Regions from separate parts of the Homo sapiens genome. Here region 1 is linked to region 2. Evidence: fine-mapped expression QTL. Tissue or cell type: whole blood. Region 2 holds a variant in brackets; the other region holds the start of a gene. All regions are shown on one strand. Distances are between the middles of the regions.

Region 1 (5,000 bases), 240 kb before region 2:
GCTCCTTAAACTTACCCCAAAATGGCCCCTGACTCTAGTGTTCTGCTACTCAGGTAGATCCTCACCTCTACCTGTTTAGAGATCTGCCAGTTACAGTGAATCTGACTGCTGCCTGCTTACGCATTTCGGCAGTTGCCTTGCCTCTCCTAAACCTTGAATATGGTGCATAGAATAAAATATAAGCCTTAAGTCATCTTGGTTACCATAAATCTCAGAATGATGCTTTTTCGATACTTATGCAATTCCTATTGCCCAATTTGAAAATGTCCTGGTTCATTTGAAAACAGTCCAGTTAGCTGCATAGAGCAGCAAGCTGTAAATTGTATCTGAAAGACCGCTGGCTTCAAACCATTGGGATTCTGAGTCATCTGTTTGGTGGTCTGACTTTGATCCCAGCCTCCAGCCTCTGGGTCCCCCTGGTCTAGGTGACACCTCTCCAAACAGTGTTGAGCTTACTCCTCAAAGGCAGAGGACAGAAGCGGATTCTGAAAAACTCTGCGTTCAGTCTGACATTCCCTGTTCTTTTCCCGCACCTTCCCCATGAAATAGCAGACTCGAAAATAAAATTTACTCATGCCCTCATGACTGACTGACTACCCCCAACCCAGGGGGTTCTCCCGTCCTTAATCTCCTCCATTTTAGTTATACCATGGGGACTTCAGGTAGGCTGCAGGAGTAGATGCTGGCCCACATTTCCATCAGTCCTTGCTAGGGACAGTGTTACACTGCTTGGTAATTGATAAATCCCCACTCTGGGTGCACAGTCCCCTCTCCCCAACTGAGCTAAGATGTGGGCTATTGATGCTTTCATGCCCAGCCCAACCATGAATCAGTTGACTTCCAGTCAATCATTCCTCCTCGTACCCACCAGGAACAACACTAACAACTGAGGCAAGAATGCAAAGCCACAACCTAAAAGAAAACAGACACATTGTTCCATCTGATCTACTGACAGCTAAGACAGTCACTCCATGGAGTACACAGGAGATTCGCAGGCTGCTGCCAGGGCTCATTCTGTTCTTGTCTTTCCTATGACTTTACTCAGGATTCCATTATCAGCAACTTCACCCTCCAGCTCTCTCCATCCTCCTATGAAAGCCTCAGGGACATAGAAATAAGCTTGTCTTTGTAAAATGTGCCAGGATCTCCGTCTTAGATAAAAGACGACTATGAGAAAAGAAATTATTTCATTCCACTATGTTCCATTTGATTTCTGCTTTCAAGCAATAAACCACCATGGCTTGAGATGCTTCTAGTGTTTCATGGAGAATTGGGACTATTTCCCCAACATGCCCTGCTCTTCATTCCTCTTTGCTTCTTCCCTTTTTGACTCCTTGGACCCGAGGGGCGACCATGAGTGGCGAAATTTCTGACCAGCTAGAATACCAGGCAGGTGCAGGCTCTTGAAGCACCAAGACTGGCTCAAGAGATTGTAAATGGATCAGTCAAGTGCATGCACCACTGACGGCCAGTCAGGAGAGCTTCCATTTGTTAAAAATATAAAGGACATTCCTATCATCAAGCATCACAATTAGGCAATCTCAAAGAAAACAATATTAGCTCTACTTGGCCTATGTTACATGCTCTAAGAAAGTATTTTAGAAAAGTTTTTTTTTTCAACATAAATTTATTGAAGGATCAAACGTGTTCTCTTTCTTGGTCTCTTTAGCTCGTAAAGTCGTTTTGGGGATTTCGTGAATCTGGCAAATAAAACAAAACACCAATGAAACGCTGAGAAATGATTATTTCCCTTATGTATTTTAGCGGCCTCCAGGCAGACCTGATAAATATTCAGCGAGTGATTAGCTGGTGCATCCCCACCTGCGTCCTTTGCATAGCCATGCCCGCTACTCTTTCACAGGCAGTTTTACTTGGTAAGTTACAAACGTACTGGCTGCACTCTGCACCTGACAGTATTGCAGTAATTAGCTTGGGATGCAAAATGATTTCTAAATTAAGGTCCTGGACTTGTAAAATCAAGAAAGCCTGATAATCAACATCGTCGCTCTGGTGGCCATTGAATAACGGGATAAATACCTAAGACAAGTCCTTTAACCATCCCACGTGGTGATAAATGCCCGACGTACAAATTAAAAGTCTCTACCACACGCAGGTGAAATAAGGTATAGGTCAAGAAGAGAAGGTAGGGGAAAGGGTCAATGCTTAATTATTTAAAAATCGCTCTCTTCCTCCTGTAGGAAGGTCTAGGGGCTAGGTCTTTTAGTGCACACGTGATGAAAGTGACATTTTGGCCAGGTGAAACCTCAAGCTGGTACAGGCAGCTAAAACACGGGCGTCGTGCCCTGGAGACACCGGGGGTCCTGAGGATGGGGAAGGGGCTCCCTGCTGCGGGTGCTGAGGGGTTAGGAGGTGAGCACCGGGCGGGAGGCTCCGGGGCAGGGGCTGCGCGTGGAGCCCACTCCCGGACGCGGGCTCCTCTCGGCCCGGCACGGGTGGCGCAGGACTCCGAGCCCGTCGACAAGAGAGAGAGCGGGAGTGGGAGAAGGAAGACCGGGAGAGGAGGAGGCCGGGCGGCAAGAGCGGAAGAAGAGGAGGAGAACTGAGGCGGAGGAGGGCGAGAGGGAGGAGAGCCGGGCGCAGGAAGGGGAGGAAAGAAAAAGGCGGCGGAGGAGCGCGGACCCGCCACTCCCGGCCTCCTCCCCCGCATCCCCACTCGGGCCGGCCCTCCCCCGGCCGCCGCCGCCGCCGCCGCCGCCGCCGCCGCCGCCGCCGCCGCCTCCCCTTGCCCAGTGTTCCCAGCACCGCAAGGCACTCGCTGCCTCCTCCGCACTCGGTCCGGTCCGCTCAGCGCCGCCGCCGCCGCACCCTCGCCGCACCCCCGCGCGCGCCCGGCCCGCGCGCCCCCGCCGCTCGTCCTCGCGGCCTCGCGCTCGGGGCATGCGCGGTGGGCGGTGCCGCTCCGGGCCGCCTCTGCCGCCGCGAGTAGGAAGCGCGAGCGCCGGGCACCGGGCTGTCAGTGAGCCTGGGGCCAGCGGGCGAGCCAGCGGCTCCGGCTCCCGCTCCCGCTCCGCGCAGCACCAGCCCGACTCTCCCCGGCCCCCGCCGCGCCCCCTCGCCGCGACCTCGGCCACCGGCCCGCGCCCCGCGCCCGGGGTCGCCCCGAGCCCGCACCTCTCCCCCGCCGCCCCCGCCCACCCGGCCCTCCGCGGCCGCAGCTCCCCGGCGGAGGCAAGAGGTGGTTGGGGGGGACCATGGCTGACGTTTTCCCGGGCAACGACTCCACGGCGTCTCAGGACGTGGCCAACCGCTTCGCCCGCAAAGGGGCGCTGAGGCAGAAGAACGTGCACGAGGTGAAGGACCACAAATTCATCGCGCGCTTCTTCAAGCAGCCCACCTTCTGCAGCCACTGCACCGACTTCATCTGGTAGGTGCCGGGCCGGGCACTCCTGCCCCGCTCCTCCCCGCCTCCGGGTCCCGGCACCCGGCGCTCCGGCGCGTCCGCCCCGGGGCTGGCTCACTCCGATAACTTGGAACCGGCGGGAGTCCGAACTCTTCGCCCGGAGTGACACGCGCGCCCGGCCCTGACACCGGCGGGCAGGACTCCCGGGACGTCGCCGTCCCGCCACACACACCCCCTGGCGCGAGAGGGAGGCTGGCCCCGTACGGTGGCGAAGGGGATCCCTCTCCGGGCCGGGCCCCTCACCTCCCCGGGCGCGCCCACCCGCACGCACCCAGCGGAGCGGCCGCTTGCCGGGGTGTGAGCCCAGGGGACAGGGGAGGAGGAGAGGCCCTAAGGGGGCAAAGGTTCCCGGAGAAACGCGCCCCGGAGTAACGGGGGAGCGGCGGCGATTGCACTGCGCGCGGTCCAAGTTGCTGGCGAGCCAGGCTGGGCGCGTTCGGGGTGGGGGGGTTGTGTTTGTGCTTCCCATCGGGCTGGACTGCGCTGGCATCTTGGGCCCCTGCCTACTGTAGGCTGCATCTACTGGGCACGGAGAGACTGACTTTTCTGAGTGAGCAGAGAGAGAGAGAGCAAACTGTTGAAAGCTTGCAGTGGGGGAGGGGGAGTTCTAGCAGGCAAATGGCACAAGGGCAGAGGGACTCATTTAAAATAGACCCTGTCGGCCAGGCGCGGTGGCTCACGCCTGTAATCCCAGCACTTTGGGAGGCCGAGGCAGGCGGATCACCTAAGGTCAGTAGTTCGAGACCAGCCTGGCAAACATGGTGAAACCCCGTCTACTAAAAATACAAAATTAGCCGGGCGTGGTGGCACACGCCTGTAATCCCAGCTACTCGGGAGGCTGAGACGGGAGACTCGCTTGAACCCGGGAGGCGGAGGCTGCAGTGAGCCGAGATCGGGCCACTGCACTCCAGCCTGGGTGAGACAGAGCGAGATTCCGTCTCAAAAAAAATGAAACAGACCCTGTCAACTCGAGATTAGACCTGTAACCCTGTTGATGAGGGCAGAGGCCTTATTTAAGAAAAATAATATAAGGGCCAGAGGTCAGAGATCAGGTAATCGCCAATGAATTCAGGCATTCTTAACTCGGAGGGTCCCTGGGGGCTTATGGAGAATCGATACATAGAAGGGCTTCAGGGGTCTCTGAACCCTGTAAAACTGAGGGAAATTGTGTTTGTGAATCTTTTTCCTGGTGAGAGAATTACAGCTTTCATCTGATCCTCAAAAGGTGTGTGACCCTTCTTCCCAGATCCCCGTCACCACACAAAAGTTTTGAAAGCTGGAACTAAAGGAGCTCTAGGTCCTCTAGTTAGAGCAGCAGTAGTTTGGTTTTTCTTTTAAGTTGCCCGACGTCCTGACTCTTCTACCTCTTCTTTGTGGTGTAGGAAGTTCCGGGCAAGACAGAGCTATGGCTAGGGCTTCTTAGCTCCCTCTCCTTCTAGGCCAGGGGGAGCTGCACAGGGTGGCAGTCACGGAGTGAATCCTGCCACCAGCCAGCTGTGTGGCACAGGTATCTTGGGCCACTAGGGTGAGCATAGTATGGATGGCTCTGTCGGAATCCATCACACCTGGGGAAAAACAT
Region 2 (7,665 bases):
CTTAAACGTCAGGCTGAGTGTATGTGTGTAAATAAACGCTTTGGGTGGAGGATATTGTTCTGCTGTGACAAGCCATCAAGCAGCACAGCAAGAAACAATACTTTTCTAATTTGTGAGTTATTCTTACGTTTCCCTTTTGCAAGGCTAGTTATTTCATTAAATTCATTTAATTTAAGCTTTGAAATCTTTTTTTTTTTTTTGAGATGGAGTCTTGCTCTGTCCTCCAGGCTGGATTGCAGTGGCGTGATCTCGGCTCACTGCAAGCTCCGCCTCTCAGGTTCACGCCATTCTCCTGCCTCAGCCTCCTGAGTAGCTGGGACTACAGGCGCCCGCCACCACATCCAGCTAATTTTTTTTTATTTTTAGTAGAGATGGGGTTTCACTGTGTTAGCCAGGATAGTCTCGATCACCTGATTTGTGATCTGCCCGCCTTGGCCTCCCAAAGTTCTGGGATTACAGGCGTAAGCACCGCGCCCGGCCTAAGGTTTCAATCTTAATAAGAATGGCTAACTTTTAGATGAGAGTTTTACATCAGAAAACCTCATCGTACCCAGAGAGATGCTTCTTTAATTCAGATTTGAAGGGATGAGTTTCCTTGTTCTGGATTAAACAGCTCACTCAGACACACCAAATGAATGCAGTGTGCAGTCCTAGGTGGCACCAATCACAGAAGAGTGAAAAGCATAAAACAGTTTTAGAAAAGGTCACCACACTTAGAAATAGAAATCCACCCTTGCTCACGCAACCCGAGGGATTTGAAAATAATTTCGAAAATCAATTTAAACATGTAGGCCACCCGTCTTTTGGAGAGATGCAGTTGGTGCCTCTCCTGCAGAAGGGGTGTTAGGAGGCTGTTGTGTTTGTTGCCAGGGAGGTGATGTTTTCCCCATTGGGAACCCTAGGCCAGCAAACTTCGGGAAGTGTCTGTGGCAGCTTGAATGCTGCTATTTCAGAGCTGATGAAGAGGCAGCTTGGAGAAAACCTCAAAAATAAATACTCTGATTCATCATTGTTGTTCAGGCTTTCCAGCCGTCAGAGCCAGCCCAGGGTTCTGAGACAAAGGGTAACATTCAGCACAGAGCCCAGCGGAGAGTCTGGAGCCCTGACTGTCTCTAAAAGAGGGGGCGGAGAGGGAGGCAGCTGCCTGCAAACCCTGGAGTGGGGCTTGACGCTGGGGGGACGGCGTGTGCTGGTTTTGCTGCTTTGGGGGTGAGGAGAGGATGAATAATCCAAAGAGGGACGTCTCCCGAGAGCAGGGACCATCTCATAAATAGCCCAGAGCAGTCAGTTGGGTGGCGGGCTGCCGTGCGGGGGCTGCAGTTAGAAGCAGCACTCGGAGTGGAGTGGGGCCTCCCAGCGGGGCCCTGCTGCACTTTGTGAGTGCTCTGTGGTCGAAGGCCAGCTGGGCCTGAAGGCAAAACATCTGGATTTTGCAGAGGGTTCCTAGGCTGAGACGGAATTCAGGCTGTAGGCTCTGTGAGACCTTGTGTGAAACCCCCGGTTCTGTCTCTGTCACTTGTTTGAGTCTCCCATTTCTCTGTCTATCAAAAGATTGAATATGGTGGCTTACAACAGAGGCAGTCGAGGGTAATTATTAGTATCATGGTTTGACCTCGAGATCTGGCACTTCCTGGACCTATTCCGTTGTATATTTCTCTGTGCACTCCCTGAGCCTCCCTTTTCTCAGCTGAGAAAATGGTCACACCTATGGTATCCCACACTGTGGAAAATGACCAAATAAGACAAGGTATGTGCAAGTATTTGGTAGAACCCTACAGAGGTAGGAAGTGGCTGTTACTAGCTGTTTCCACTGGTATTCTCTGGCCATCTCAGAGCTGTTTAGGGACCATTCCAGCTACAGGGGAGGGCAAGATTTAGAGTAGACTCTCAAATGAGTCTATCTGATTCTTTGGAAGCACGAGCTCTAGTAAGATAGTTTGAACAAAGATGTGACCATGAGGGGTTTTGTTTTATTTTTTAACTAGATTTTGATATGTTGTGTGCCGCTTCTCCACTGCACAGATTGACCAAGAGTTAGCTGCAGATTGTGGCTCAGTAAGAAGGTCTTGTGGTACGTGCTCCTGCGGCCCCCACCTCAAACTCTTGCCTCTGGTGTTCTTGAAAGAAATGAGGGGACCTTTGCCCGAGCCAAGGGAAAATGCAAGATTTTGGAGGCTTAGCCCCTTTATTGTTTTTTTCCTCTGTTGCTTATATTGATTTCTGCGGCAAAGAGCAGTTGACTGGGATTGAAAGCTACTCTGCTGGTCTTGGATGTGGAAGAAAAAATAATTCCCACTTTCCAAATAGAGGCTCATCCAGAGGCAGCAGATGCCAGAGGCAGCAGATGCTAGCTGCAGTTCTGCAGGCAGGAATTGCACGTGCAAAGCAGAGCTGACGTCCAGTCCACGCCTCATGGCACTTTGGAAGTGCATCTGACACCGTTTGCCTGCCATACACAAGCCACAAAGACTTTTTGAGGCGACAGGTTATGCCAAAAATTAAGTAAAAATGACACAGCTTCAGATGACATTTACATATCTATTTTTGAGGTTTCAGAACATGTGCCCTATAAAAATGTACAACTGCATTGTTTAAAACTCTTCTGAGTCTCTGAGGATTTTCTATCAGTGCATGCCTCTCAGTTATCACTTAAATGTCAAGGCCCTAAGCTTGTATGAGCCCCTAAAATGTTTTTGAGCCCCACAGTAAATTTTTGGCTGACCACATTTGTTCTATGTAAGGCTGATAACAAGCCACCACGTGGAATCTCACAGTGGGACTTTAGTATCAGGCAATTGCAGAGTCCTGAAGCTCGTGTTGCGGTTATTATGGTTCTATATAAAGCCCCAGGGGAGAAAGTCATTTCATGCTTTTAAAATTACTAGTTAATGTTTAAGGAGTTTATACGGAGTGGACTGAGCCAAGCATTTTCCCCTTAACTTTAAAATTATTACAGAGAGGCCTTAAGAAACTGTTCTGTATTAGATGGTGATTAAAATATGACCTTTTTCTTTCTTTATGCTTAGGATTTTCACGATGTGGTTTGCAATTAATTTGTATGTGCACAGTCTTTGTGCTAGTTTCTGTGGACATACAGTGGTGCTACTTGGCCTTAAGAGCTTCC[T/C]GTGTGTGGTTGGGAGATAGGCAGTTAGTAAGCCATGTGTGCTGTGAGAAAACCCAGAGCATAGAAGTCGCACATGAGAGTACCAGGTGCTGAGTACCATGGGGGTGAGAGCAAGGAGGGATTATTTCTGCCCCAAGAAGGCTTCTTGGGAAATAGAGCAGTTATGAAGGACCTGGAAAGATGTTCCAATAAGACTTGGGTGAGGAGACACAATAGTCCCAAGTAGGGAGGGCAGAGCACCCTGAGTAGAGGTGTGGTGTCAGGAAGTGTGAGAATTCTTCAGAGACTGATAGTCGGAAGGGATTCCTCTGCAAAGGCCTGTGGAAGGATATGAAGGTTGGAAAGACAAGTGGGAGCCATTGGGGAGTCTCAACAAATGTGTATTGTATTGTGTGTGTTTCACTTGGAAAATTATCTTGCTATTAATGAGAAAGTACAGATTAATGCTTTTTTTGTTTTACTGGATTCAAATTATATTTGACAAGTCATTTCATTCTAGTGTATGCATGTGATTTTCTTGGAACGAGGGTAACATTTTAAAGATAGGATTTGATGAGTCAATGAGGTATTTTTCAAGTAGATTACTTAGAAAATGTTATAGTCATAAAATATCTTGGAGTTACAGTTAAGAGTCAATTATTGTTTCATCTATAGGCATCCAATTAAAGTTGAATTATGCTGTTATTTTCACTCAATTTCCAAAGCTATGCACTTCCGTAATTTCTATCCTTGTTTATAGTCAGTATAATGTTTAATGCAATGTGCCTGATTTAGCACTTTGTGTTATAAATTTTGCCTGATAAATAATCAACTTATTTTCTTCCGTATGACGACAGTTTTCTTCACAGTGAATGGAGCTTAGTGTATTTATATAAAATGTAAGTCTGGGAGAGTTTCCATTATAGTTCAAGTATATTTAATGTTCAAAAGAATGCAGTATTTGTGGTTTCCTGGCATTCTTTGAATACCATGTGGCTCTTCTCTCTTCCTTCTCACCAAAACCCTAGTCATTTTATTATTTATATAATGAGATACTGTAAGATACTAAAACATAAGTTATTGTGAGGTCTGGCTTTTGATGCTATGAAGTACCCTTTGTTATTTGAGACTAATGAAATGAAATCAGTGAGTTCCAGCTTGTCTACTAGTATGTTGCTTGAAACAATTACATTCTTTTGAACATTAAATTTATATATTTGAACTATAAGGAAACTCTCCCAGACTTGTATTTTATATACTCTAAGCTCCATTGACCATGCAGAAATCTGTCAGCATATGAGAGGAACAAGCGGATTATTTATCAGGCAGATTTTATAATGCAGAAATACGAAGCAACATAGTGCTGTGGTGAAGACAGAATTGAACATTGTTAGACACTTAGCAATCCCAAGAGGCATCATGAAGTCCATGTACCCTACACCATAGAAAAGGCTACACCCCAAAGTTCTGGAACAAGCCTGGTTTGCTGGCTTTCTGGTGTCAAATGTCAGAAGCAGAAAATGGGAGGATGGTAAAACAGTAGACTCAGTGAGAGCAGGACTGAACTTCAGCAGGCCCCATAATTGTACAGAAACAAGATTGCTAGGCTGGGTGCTGTGGCTCACGCCTGTAATCCCAGCACTTTGGGAGGCCAAGGCAGGCAGATCACTTGAGGTCAGGAGTTCGAGACCAGCCTGGCCGACTTGGTGAAACCCTGACTGTACTAAAAAAAATACAAAAATTAGCCACGTGTGGTGGTGCACACCTGTAGTCCCTGCTACTGGGGTGGTGGGGGGAGCTGAGGCAGGAGAATCGCTGGAACCCGGGAGGTGGAGACTGCAGTGAGCCAAGATCAGACCACTGCACTGCAGCCTGGGCGACACAGCGAGACCCCATCTCAAACAACAACTACAAAAGATTTCTCATGGCCACTTAGTTTAGGAAGAAGACCCCCATGTAGTTCATGAACCCAATGCTGTGAACCAAAATACTATAAACACTAGTATTCTAGGTCACCACTGTGATCATTGAGAAAATGTTGAAGTATATTGACATATTTTGTTTAACAAAACAAGGGACTTAAAGTGCGTTTTAGAAATATTTGTATACATGCTGGTTTAAAAAAGAAAAGACTAAAAACAAGCCTTAGTACATAAAAAGAAAATATTCAGTTTTCCAGAAAATGAGGTTACTCCCTTACATTGAGAGTTACATGAAGCCTTGTTACAGTACTTTTAGTCTTCTTTATTCAAAGAAAGAATTACCAATATCATTTTTTTTTTAAGATGGAGTGAGTCTTGCTTTGTCACCCAGGCTGGAGTACTGTGGCATGATCTCAGCTCACTGCAACCTCCACCTCCCAGGTTCAAGCCATTCTACTGTCTCACCCTCCCAAGTAGCTGGGATTACAGGCATGCGCCACCATGCCCAGCTAATTTTTGTATTTTTAGTAGAGATGGGATTTCACCATGTTGGTCAGGCAGGTTTCAAACTCTTGACCTCAGGTGATCCACCCGCCTCGGCCTCCCAAAGTGCTGGGATTACAGGCATGAGCCACCATGTCCGACCACCAATATCATTTTTTAAAAGTAAATTATTACGATTTCCTTAGGTGGTTAATAAATTACCATTATTTTCTCTATTTTACAGATCACGAAATGATAAGTAACTTACCGAAAGTTACATTATTTAAGTTAATCAAATGTTTATTGATTGCCAGACTTTTTTCTAGGCTTAAGCAAATGTTGGAAAATACTTCTCTGAGCTTTCAAAAATGTTATTTCTACTTGTCAGTGCTGCAGGAGTTTAATACAGATAATTTAGGCTGGGCGCAGTGAATCACGCCTGTAATCCCAGCACTTTGGGAGGCCAAGGCGGGCAGATCACGAGGTCAGGAGATCGAGACCATCCTGGCTAACACGGTGAAACCCCGCCTCTACTAAAAAATACAAAAAATTAGCCAGGCGTGGTGGCGGGTGCCTGTAGTCCCAGCTACTCAGGAGGCTGAGGTAGGAGAATGGCGTGAACCCAAAAGGCGGAGCTTGCAGTGAGCCAAGATTGTGCCACTGCACTCCAGCCTGGGCGACAGAGCGAGACTCTGTCTCAAAAAAACAGATAATTTATCTACATACTGTATGACTTTACTTTAAAAAATGTTTGTATCCTTGTAGTAAGACTGTTATTTTTTTTAATCCTACATCACATCATGCATTCCTGAGTGTGAGCTACCAGTGTTTTTGTCTAGGGCTAGATTACTAGAGCTAAAATATCGGGAGAATTAATGAGAAAAAAAGGCTTAACCACTGAGGCTCTGTCAATATCAGTTTTTGTGGCAGGCTATGTTTACTTTCTTCAAGGAAAAATGTCAGGCAAAATTTTATCACTACAAATACAAAAGAGAAGAACATTAAAAAAATCTGATCATTATAGAAATCATAGTCAGTGCAGAATGTTTCCTGCAGAATCCAAGTGTTTAGTGAATGTTGGTGGAAAATATGAAGTGTGTCATGTGATTGGAAAGTCATTTACCATATTCATTTTTCTTTTAGGAAAAAAAGTAAATTAGATTTTGTATGAGAATAAACCTTACTGAGACTTGTTAATTTTGCTCTGAAATTTACTGTTTGATATTAATCTGGCCAGTCTAGCTTTCTTTTAGATTAATGTTACCATGATACTTCGTTTTTTATCCTTTTACTTTTCATATATCTGTGTCTTTAAGTCTAAAACGAGTTTCATATAGACAGTATCAGTATGTAGTCTGGTCCTTTTTTATCTGCTGTGACAATCTTTGCCATTTAATTGCAGTCTTTACACCATTTATATGTAATGGAATTATCATTAATTTACATGGGATTATAATTTACATTTAATGACCACTATCCTTTTATTTGCATTCAGTTCATCCTCTTGTTCCCTTTTTCCTTCTGTTGGGATGAGTATTTTTAATTACTTCATTTTATTATGTTTGGTTGTATTAGTTTCTAATATGATTAGCTGTATTAGTTTCTAAGGCTGCCATAACAGATTAACATAGAGTGTCTCAAAACAACAGAAATGTATTCATACACAGTTCTGAAAGCTAGAAGTCCACAATTAAGGCCTTGGCAGGGTCATGCTTCCTTTGAAGGCTCTTGGCAAGAATCTTTCCTTGCATTTTCCTACGTTGTGTTAGTTGCCGCTAATCCTCTATGTTCATTGGCTTGTGGCTGCATCTCTCCAGTTTCCGCCTCTGTGTTCACATGGCCATCTTCCCTCTGTGTGTGCCTGCCATTTCCAAATCTTTCTTTCCTTATAAAAATAGCAATCATTGGATTTAGGGGCTACCCTAATCCAATATTGGCCTCATGTTACTTCATTACATTTGCAAAGACCTTATTTCCAAATAACGTCACATTCACGTAGACCTGGAGTAAAGGCTTCGAGATATTGTTTTGGGGAACACAATACGACCCGCAGCATTAGTTTTACCTCTTCGTGTTTTGTTTTGTTTTGTTTGTGGTTGATCTAGGGCTTGTAATGTAAATCTTTAATCAATCAGTCTACTTTCCAACAATATTATA

Evidence for each region. PIP is the estimated chance that this variant, and not a neighbour inherited with it, causes the effect.
Region 1: PRKCA starts here. The variant in region 2 is fine-mapped to the expression of PRKCA in whole blood (TOPMed, PIP 0.97).

The regions. Positions count from the first base shown.
Region 1 is chr17:66,299,640-66,304,639 of GRCh38, forward strand. PRKCA (protein kinase C alpha) reads left to right here and starts at 2,974. Exons shown (of 17, transcript NM_002737.3): 1 at 2,974-3,385. The coding sequence starts at 3,213. RefSeq lists an enhancer at 3,768-4,269.
Region 2 is chr17:66,539,222-66,546,886 of GRCh38, forward strand. All of the region lies in intron 3 of PRKCA (protein kinase C alpha), which reads left to right. Among named protein-coding and RNA genes, the nearest start is that of PRKCA-AS1, 130 kb to the left of the region's middle. RefSeq lists a silencer at 3,210-3,259. The variant T/C (reference allele first, on the strand shown) is at 3,125.